Regions from separate parts of the Homo sapiens genome. Here region 2 is linked to region 1. The links come from fine-mapping of genetic effects on gene expression. A gene starts in region 1. The other region holds a variant in brackets. All regions are shown on one strand. Distances are from middle to middle.

The links.
Region 2: its variant is fine-mapped to the expression of IFNG-AS1 in whole blood (INTERVAL, PIP above 0.99).

What each region holds. Positions count from the first base shown.
Region 1 is chr12:67,986,816-67,992,318 of GRCh38, reverse strand. It overlaps IFNG-AS1 (IFNG regulatory antisense RNA 1), which reads right to left and starts at 2,872. Exons shown (of 4, transcript NR_104125.3): 1 at 2,740-2,872.
Region 2 is chr12:68,019,950-68,025,216 of GRCh38, reverse strand. It overlaps IFNG-AS1 (IFNG regulatory antisense RNA 1), which reads right to left. Exons shown (of 4, transcript NR_104125.3): 4 at 3,904-5,267. Among named protein-coding and RNA genes, the nearest start is that of IFNG-AS1, 33 kb to the right of the region's middle. The variant T/G (reference allele first, on the strand shown) is at 3,221.

The DNA.
Region 1 (5,503 bases):
TGATTCAGTGGAATACTATGTAGCAGTGAAAATAATGTGTATCAACATGGATAAACCTCAACAATTTAATGGTGAATTACCAAAGCCAGATATTAAAAGAAATGCAAAGTATGATACCATTCATATAACATCTAGGGACACAAAACAATACTCAATATTATTTGTAGGTGTCTATGGAGCATAAATACAGAAACATCACGGGAAGATAAACATCAAATTCAAAATGTGTTTACTCCTGGATACAGAGACAGAGAGAAAGAGAAAGAGAGAGAGAGGAAGAGAATTGGCTTGAAAGGTAGTACATAATTAGAGTCAACTTTAACCTTTCTTTCCTTGTGAAAAATCTGAAATAACTATGAGAAAATAACTAAGAGCAATAACATGTAACAAAGCTGGATGACAAGCATATGGACACTTATTATTTCATTCTAGATAATTTTCTCTATCCTTGAGCTATTTCATTTAAAACAAACTTTTCAAGGTCACAGAGCTAAGAGATGGCAGAATTTGTTTGGTTTTGTATTAGGAAGTCTTGTTTTTTGAACCTGTTTAAGAGACTTCCAGCTATTTAAAAGAGAGGAGTCATGTGAGGGCATAGTTGCAGTACGAAGTACTGACTGAGACCTCCCTGGTGCGGAGAAGCCAAAGAGCCTTGGCAAAAGTTCTGGGTTTAACATGGCCCATCTTGCGGGCTTTCCTTTGAAGATGCTTTGCCCATTGGATCAGCAGTCTTAGCTACTAAAACTTTCCCACAAGTGATCTTATTATCCTCATTCATTAAGGTGGCAAGAAACAAGATTTTCTCTAGCACTCACATGTGCATCGGGGGTCTGTCTGGATCTAGCCACAGTCGAGCATCCCCTGGTCTCCTGAGTGTGCCCTGTGAACTGCTCCCCCTCATCTCTACCTTCTTAGGTTCTGCCCATTTTCTAGAGCCAGCCACACCTCTCAACCCCACGGGGGCTTTCCCAGATGCTCCAACCCTATGCAGTCACTTCCTTTTCAGAACCATTATAGCAGCTCATCTGCCACTTAGCATGTGCCGTCTTTTATTTCAGATCTTCTTAAAACCTAATAATCAATACACTTTAAAGCTAGGAGCAGTTTTACAGAACACATAATCCAATTTCCTCTTTTTGCTAATGAGAAAATGGAAACCTAGAGATACTTGGTAAATAATAGGACCAAGTCTAGACTCCATCCCTCCTTTGCCATTATCTGGTATCATTTTACTGTGATATGTGTGTGTCCCGAGAGGATGTCAGGTTCTTTCTGGACAGCAACTTGTTTGAAACTATAGCATGTTCATATTGGATCTTTAATAGCCATATGCACATGGTGACATGGTGCTTCACCAAACCACATAGGGCAGGTGGAAGATAAATAATTTCTTGTGTAGAACAGAGTTTAAAGTTAAAAAAAAATTATTTATGTAGCGGTGGCTCATGCCTGTAATCCCAGCACTTTGAGAGGCCGAGGCGGGCGGATCACGAGGTCAGGAGTTTGAGACCAGCTTGGCCAACATAGGGAAACCCCATCTCTACTAAAAATACAAAAAATTAGCTGGGCATGGTGACAGGCACCTGTAATCCCAGCCATTGGGAGGCTGAGGCAGGAGAATCACTTGAAGTCAGGAGGCGGAGGTTGCAGTGAGCTGAGATCGCGCCACTGCACTCCAGCCCGGTCGACAGTGCGAGACTCCATCTCAAAAAAAAAAAAAGTATTAATGTATTTCAAACCCTTAGGTGTATAAAGTTTCCTTTAAAAAAGGATTAGAAAGCTTCTATTGGTCATATAAGATGTTCAGATGTTTCTATTTTTGTTACTACAAGCAAAACAAAGCTAATCGCTCTTAACTTTGTTCCCTTAATTCACTGCCAAAGGTGAGCTCAGAGAGGATTTATATGGACCAGTTCTGACCATTGTAGGTTAAAGACATTTCTTTGAATTTCAGCTGAGAAACATTCTCCCATGCAGCCCTTTTACCAGTTAAGTTGAATAAGCTTGACTTTGTAGATATTGTTTTTAGTTTCATTTCAGAAAAAAAGAACATTAAGAAGTCAATTTAATAAGCAAAATTATTTACGTGATTTAACTTAATTTGGCAATATGGCTGGGAAAATACAGAACAAAACAAAAGCAAATGTAAGAATACATACTTGGAACTGAACCAGTAGTGTTAGCAGTAATTATGCAATTAGTAGTTTTAATTACAATTAAAAAATCACCCTAAATTATCCAAGACCTATGATATGTGACATGGCACTCACCACCTTGAACAACTTCTCTGAATTCATTTTAAAACTGAGTACGGCGCCCATGGCATTTTCTTCCCAACTCATCCACCTGTGACCATGTTAAGAAGAAATTCCCTAGAATAGTTCAATCAAAGCTTACTGTGAACACTCTCACAACTTAATCAATGTTCTACATGTTCATTTCAAGGTTATTCTGAGATCTCAGGAAGGGTTTGTGAGCTTCCTGAAATAGAAGAAGTCTCAGAGGAATTCATCCCCCTGAGCTCAGTGGAGACATTCCAGCCATGCGGGTCTCCTTCCTCCTCTCCACCCCAGCCTTCCTCCTTCTTCTTCCTCCCTCACAGCAGAGATATGACAAACACCACCCACTTACAGTTGGTTCTCCTAATTCCACCCACAGGAGCTAAAAACCTAAAGAAAACACATTTATTTGTTTAAAAATGTAATTTACAAACAGCATTTTCATGAAAAATGTTCTCACCCTCGTTGTGCTAGTTCGTTGTATCTTTTTCTTCCAGGCTTATTCCTTCCCAAATGACTACAGTTTTTGCTGGCATTTCTCTGAAGGTATACTTGAGATCTCTTTAAGAGTCAGAAAAGCTACCTGAAATTGCAGGCAGCTTCCTGTTGGGCTCACGTTTTGCAGAATCCACGCTTGGTGTGCAGAAGGTGGGCAAGGTGTTTGAAAAAACAGGAAGCACCTGTGAATGTGTGAATTTATTTCTGGAAGCAGAAGGCTCCCTCTGAGATGGCTCTAGATGCTTCCTGCTGTTCCACCTATGAGCATTTTGCAAGGCCTTTCAGTACTTTGGGGCTATGAACAGGCTTCCGAATGGCAGGATTATTTGGAAAATCTGGGACACGGTGGGAATTCTGTTTTTTTAATGCAACTTTTCTGTTTTTTTCATGCAACTTTTTTCATGCAACTTTCTTTTTGGGGGATATTGGTTGATATGCGTGGAAATGAAGGTAGACTTTTAATTGCAATGGGGAAGTTAAAACCAAATGAGAATTAGAGATGTATGTAGCTTTATAAGTGATTTTGCTTTCATAAGATCATGTTTGTACTCATTGATTCCTTTACTCAGTAAACAGTATTGAGTGCAAGGCACTGAGATACTCCCTAGGAATCCACCGGAGACAAAACAGTGGTTGTGTGAAGTTTCAGTCCCCTGTTTCAGTCCCAAAATCACCTACAAGAAAGTGTTGTATTTCAAATTTGCATTTTTATATTTGCATGTGTCTGTATGATTTAGTGATGTGTTTAATTGAAATGCTACTGAAATAAGTCTCCTCCTCTGTATGAGGTACTCTAAACTACTGTTGGTGGCTGGCTATTCCAGCTTGGGCAGCCCCTGCCTGCCTTTTCAGGTCATGCATTTGGTGACATTAGTGGCTAATTAGGTTAATCCTGTTCCTTGACTGGAGAGACCACAGCTAATTGCTATCCTGTAAATACACTCTTGGCTGTAGATAAACTGGACTGCAACATGTGTCTGGATTCTTGAAGACCTATTACCAGTCTTTGAGGAAAAAGTGTCAACAGCTTCTGTTCTACAGTTTTCAGTAGCTTTATTTTCATATCTGAGCAAAATCTGGCACAGAGTAAAGAATACAGCTCCCTCCCTCTTTTATATGTGTGTGGCCTCAACAGGTCACGTTGCAGCCAGTTTGAAAATCTCCAAGTAAACAGTGCTGATTTGTTGGTAGACTACGCTGGAGAAAATGCAGAGGGGCTGGGGAGAAAGAAACCTGGGTCTAAAGTTTAGCTCTGCCACTTACTAGCTATGTGAACTTGGGCAAGTCATTTAGCATTTCTCCAAGACCACCTTTTTTTCATGTGAATGGAAATAATTCTCATACTTACCCAAGCAAGTATCATGAGGACAAATTATATAAAGTTTATAGAACATTATATAATATACATCCCCAGGTTCTAGAGATGGATTAGGGTTTGAGCCAAGAGGCATGGGTTTGATCTTGGAAAGGTCATCCTGGCCCTCTGTGCCCAAGACACCTCTAGCATAAAGATTGAACATGTCCTGTATTGGGCTCCTACGGATTTACTGAGCACCCATATATGGTAGTCACTGAGCCAGAGACTATTGACACAGATAGAAGTGTCGGGTTCCTGTCCTCAACACAAATGAGGTTCCTCTATTTTATATCCGTTATTGGAAAAGGAGAGGGAAGATTTTCTAAGGTTAGAATGAAATCCTAAAGTAATTAACTGACTGCCAATCATTGTTAAAGGGCACTTTCCATATTGTGTTATCAAGAGCACTGGCAGGCACGGGCAGACCAAGGCCTTGACTGGCTCTTCCACTTCTTAGATGGGTGACTTGGGGCAAGATACTTCGTTTTGTTAAATCTCAGTGTTTTTTGCAAAATGTGGGCAATAGGAGCACGTTCCTCACTTGGTTCTTGAGAAAATTAATTGAATTAATAGGAGAGAAAGAGAAAGAGGGAAAGAGAGAGAGAGAGAGAGAGAGATTTTCTGTCTCCAACATATGCAAATTCTATTTGCATATGTTGATACATTAGTCTGTTTTCCCACTGCTATAAACACCCAAGACTGGGTAATTTAAAAGGAAAGAGGTTTAATTGACTCACAGTTCCACATGGCTGGGGAGGACTCAGTAAATCTACAATCATGGTGGAAGGAGAAGGGGAAGCAAGCACCTTCTTCACAAGGCAGCAGGAAAGAGAGAGAGAGAGTGAAGGGGGAAGAGTCCCTTATAAAACCATTAGATCTTGTGAGAACTCACTCACTATCAGGAGAACAGCATGGGGAAACCGCCCCCATGATCCAGTCATCTCCCACTAAGTCCCTCCCCGACATGTGTCAGTCAGTATATTAGGCATTGGAGATACAAAGACAAAAGAAAATTCTGGACTTCAGTTGAATTACAAAGGAAAGCATGAATAAGCAAATTGATTAGTACATGATGAATGTTATAAGGAAAGCCTGGAAAAGGTCTCAAGAACAAGAGGAGAAATTTTACTATTCTACCTGGAGGAGGTAAAGTGTTAAGAATTTATGATTAAAGGTGTTCCTAAAGGTGGACCTCAGAGGCCAAAAAAAAAAAAAAAAAAAAAAAAAATAGGGTAATCAAGCTGTCCTCTTATCTATTATCCCATGGGAAACACTGACCAAACAGGAGGGATTTCAGGACATCATTTCCTAGTCAATGACATCTGGGATTTTCTCAAGTTACTCAGCAACAGACAAGTGGTTGAGATGA
Region 2 (5,267 bases), 33 kb before region 1:
TCAATAAAGTAACCAGCTAGTGAAATGTAAAATCAAGACTCTATACACTCTCTGTTTTATAGCATAATTCCTGCCACTTAATGCCAGCTGCTTTGTAACCATTTTGTGTCAGGTATTGTGCTAGACTCCAGGGATTACAAGATGAAGCAGCACAGTTCTAGTCTTCATAAAGGTTAGGGAGGACTGGAGCTCAAGCTGCATGGTGGGAGTTGCTAGAGGTAAAACTGAAAATTAGGAAGGTCTCGTACACCATATTGGATGCTTCAAGTCTATCCACAGAGGAATGAGAAGCCATTGGAGAGCTTAAGATGGGAAGTGGCATGATCAAATTTCCAAATCAGAATGATTTAGATTGCATAAATTATTTTCATTCAATGCATATGTGTTGAGGGTCTGTTTTGTTTCAAGGACCCTTCTCAGTGCTACAGGTACAGCAAGAAACAAAAAGTCTCAGGAAGTTTACAACCTAGTGGAGAAGACTAGACAATAAACAAATAAAAATGCAATGTAATTTCAAGCAGTTGTAAATATTTTGAAAGTAAATAAAGGAAGGTAAAGGAGTTGAAAGTCATGAGGTGTGTTTAAAATAGAGTTAGGAAAGCTCTATTAAGAAAGTTACATTTGAGCAGAGATATCAGTGAAATGAAAAGGGGGGAGACACATCCAGAGAGTTCCAGGTGGATGGACAAGGACGAACACATGCAATGGTTGTGACACCAAAGTGAGCTTTGGATGCTTGAAGAAAGTCAAGGCAGCCAAAGTGACTGGAGTTGAGTGAATGATGGGGAAGAGTGATATGTAGTAAGGATGGTGAGGTGGGCAAGGGTAGATGAATGTGGGTTGTAAAATGGAGTTGAGTTTTATTCTAAGCATAATGAGAAGTCACTAGAGATTGCAAATTAGGGAAGCAATGGTATCTGATTTACTTTCAATGGTATCTGATTGACTCTGGTGGATGTGTGAGAAATGGACTGTAGCAGGGCAGGAAAGGAACCAGTATAACCATTTAGGAGACTATTACAGTAGAGCAGGCAGAACAAGATGGCAAAACCTGGAGTCCATAGTGGAGGTGGTGGGATATGAAATTGGTAAAACACACATAACTTCCTAATGGATTGGATGTGGGGTATGAGGGGAAGAGGAATCTTAGATGATTCCTAAAATTTAGCCTAAGCAATTAATCAGTGGTGGTGCCATTTCCTAAAATAGGAAAGATTGTGAGAGGGGTTGTTAGGAACTGAATTGTGCCCTACCCCTAAAATTCCTGTACTGAAGCCCTAACCTCTAATGTGACTATATTTGGAGATAGGGCCTTTAAGGAGGTAATTAAGGTTAAATGAGATCATAAGAGTGGGTCTCTAATTCAATATGGTTGATTCCTTATAAGAAGGAAGAGACACCAGAGATATGTGTGTGCAAAGAAAAGGCCATGTGAGGACATAGTGAGAAGTTATCCAAGGAGAGAGATACCAGGAGAAACCACTGCTGGCTCCTTGATCTTGGACTTCCAGCCTCTAGAACTGTGAGAGGATAAAATTCTGCTGTTTAAGTTTCCCAGCCTTATTTTGTTATGGCAACCCTAGCAAACTAAAGAGGAGTGAAGAGATAGTTAAAAAAAAAAATGAGGAGTATCCTCTTCGACATATTGAGTTCGAAATACCCATTAGGCTTCCAAGCAGAGACTGAATAGACAGGTGTACATATAATTCTGAGGCTTAGGGAAGATGTTGAGGCTGGAAACATAATGGAAAGTCACAAGATAAGGACAAAATTTGTTATAGGGGAAACACATAATCCCCAGTCTTTATGTTTCTATAGGAAACCTCCATCGATGTTACAATTGTGACTTCTCAAGAGTGACTATTCCTAGGGGAGAGGAATCGTCACAACTGATTGGTCAGCTTGGGAGAAAGAACTCAGCATTAATGGTTCATTCATTTTCTTGTATCTGGAAGGGCATATCTGCCTTCAGAGAATATACATTTTTTAATCCTCCATGCTGTAAGTTTTTCACACACCAATCTGCATTGGAGGAGGCCTGTGGTTGCCCAAATGTTCTTGTGTTTGTGTGGGTTAGTAGGTGTCGCAATCGTATTTTCCAATATAAATATTTTAAAAATAAGTAATAAGGGTAACATATTTATCTCTTCTCTTTGATTCCTATCTCTATCTTGCGATTGATTCTAATGTCATGGTTGACTAGATGAAGTCATCTGTTCAGTAGTTATTGATAGAGAACTATCTGCCTGATAAAGTGATAGTGAGAAACAGTTCCTGGCACATAGTAAGTAATGGTAAGCTACTCTTCATAGACAGGAAGAGCTGGATATATGGGAATGAAGCTAGTTAAACGGACTGAGCTGGAAATATAGCAATATTGAGAAATGAAAGCCCAAAAGAGTATATGAGTAACTAGTTGGGAAACTGGAGAATGTGTCTTTATGTGTATGCATGAATGTGAATGCACCAGCACAGTAGCTGTTGTAGTAGTGGAAGGGCAGTTAAACATACAAAGCTTTAATGATGACTATTAAGAAAATAATGTTTGTATCATGGTAATATAAAAGGTGTTGAATTTCTTGTCTCAGTTAGGATTTGGAGCTTTATCAGTTATCCATTTCTCCATAACAAATCCTGATTTAAAACACAAGAATTTATCTTGTCCTAAATTGCTATGCCTTAGCAATTTGGGCTGGGCTCAGCCAGTTGGCTGTTTTGCTGGTCTTGCCTGGGGCCACTTATCTGGCTTCAGTCATCTGGCAGCTTAACTGAGGCTGGATGGTCTCACTCACATGGCTGAAGGTTGGCTCTCCTTGTTGACCAGGTGTGGTCTCTCATTCTCATGGAGGCTGGCCCAGGCTTCCTATCTCACAGCAATGACAGCCTGAAAGCAGAAGCTGAAAGGCCTTTTGGTGCTGAGACCCTGAAGTCATATGATGTCCCTTCTGCAGCCTTCTGTTGGTTTTAGGCAAGTCACAGGGCCAAATTAAAGGGAAAAAGAAATGGACTCTATGTCTTGATGGGAAGGGGTGACAAAGTTGCATGGCAAAGAAACATGTGCACAAGAATCATAAGAATTGTTGTAGCCATCTTCGTAAGCTGATGAACAGTAGTCTGATGGCACATTTCTTGTGTTGTTACCATATGCTCACCAAATAGAATCTCAAATGTATAAAAACCTTCCTACCACCAACTATGCCCAGAATAAGAATTATACATG[T/G]TATGCTATGTGTGTGTCAAAGGTAGGAATAAGTAAAAGTGCAAGTTGATCCAGAGTTTGCACTTTGATGTGGTATTACCTGTGGCCAACTCTCCCTTGATGAGAATATAGGTAGCTGGCCAAGTGGAACAAGTGTTTTTTGTTCAGGATGTTTCTTCTACTCACTTCCACTATATCTACTTTATTCATATTATCTTCGGATCCCAGCAAGGGCATATGAAGATAGAGGCCATGCAGTAGATTCTGTCCAAGAATCCAAAAGCCACATTTTCCTTGGTGTAGAAGTCAAAGATGACCCTGTTCTGTGATGGGCCACAAAATGTTGCAGAGACCTTAGGAAGATTGTTTTTTGCTGTTTTTAAAGCAAAACTTTACTTGATTAGCTAGGGCCTCTGATTTTTCAACTCTGTTTTCCTTTCAGAATTTGAATTCAAGAAAAAGAATATCTTAACAGGTACATTGAAGCACAGCTCAGGTGTCAGACTGTCTGAGATCATACATTTAATGGCTCTGTGACCATGGAAAAGATAATTAACCATCCCATAACTCAGTTTCCTCAAGTATAAACTGATGACAACAGTAGTATCTACTTCATGCCGTTGTTGTAATAATTAAATCAGTTAATACCTGTAAAGCTGTTGAAATAATGCTGAACATACAGTTAGTATTCAAAAGGTCTTAGCTATTATTACTGTTGTTGTTTTATTGCTGTTGATCTTTATATACCATATAAGGCATGATGAAAAATTACAGAAATATAGACAAATATTCCCATTTTTTAAATGCTTGTAGTTAAATTGGGAAAACAAACTATGTATATATAAAATATTTAGGGAGTAGTTAAAAGACCATATTTGAGAAAAACAAATACTTAGACTAATAACTCACATGATTGCTGAGGATGATCAGTATGGGGAAAGATGATCAATAAAGGGATGTGCCACTTAGGAGGAGAATTTTGGGAGAGACACCGAAGAAATGGTATGTGGCGGGAAAATTGCCAGTGTGCACAACTGCATTCAATTACCCAGCTTCCTGCTCCCCCATGCTCGAACGTGTATATGGGGAAGTGGTATATGCTTTTCTATTACTCAGACTTGGTTCTTTGAAACACTCCCACCCTACCTTTTAGAGGATGTGTGTCAAAAGTGCAGTTACTTGTCCCTTTAACATAATACCAGTTAACTCATACTGGGTTGCTGTTTTTGTTGTCACTTCAATGGGTGAGTTTTCCACAACACTATCAACTTCTTTTTAAGGGAATATAAGAGTTGATTCAACGAAAACTCTGTTGGCTCTTCTTGGTGAAGAGCAAAGGAATTTCTTAAGCTTTGAACACTCTGCCCAGATTCCCTTCTCTGGTGGAAGTATGTGCATAAGTCTACGATTGCATTTCTTTGCATGTCTGAAATTTTATGTGGCAGTTTTGCCAACAACTCCAAATTCTTAGCTTAATCCACCTTAGAGGTTGTAAACATTTATTTCCACTTTTAGTCCAGCGACAAAGAACTTTTGGCCCTCTCTCTCAAGATTTTAATGTGTTGGTGTGTTTGCGTGTATGTTTTAATATTTTGGTGTACAAGAAACCCAAATGGTTTCCTGTACTGTCGATGTCAAACTGATACCTGTGTTCTCCATTTTAATCCACACTGAACACTATACAAATTGTCTTACTAAAGCACAGGCCTGATTATACACTTTCCTTTCAAATACTCTTGATGGCTGCCTACGGCATGTGACATGTGACATTCAACATGTCACATGTCATGATTCGTGTGTCATGCTTCATATGTCATGATTCAAGACATGATTTATCATGTTTTGATTCTGCATGCTGCAGGCAACATGTGACATGTGACCTTCAGGGCCCTTCACAGCCTTTTCCTAGTCCGGCTTTCCAGGCATCCTTTACCCTTTTCTAATCTTTTGTGAGTTCTTAGGCCTCGGTTGCTTTGATTACACAAACACCTCTCAGTAGAATGACTTTTCCTCTTTTCTTTTGGTCCATTTTCTGAAGACCCTTCAAAGACTTTCCCAACTGGCCCCT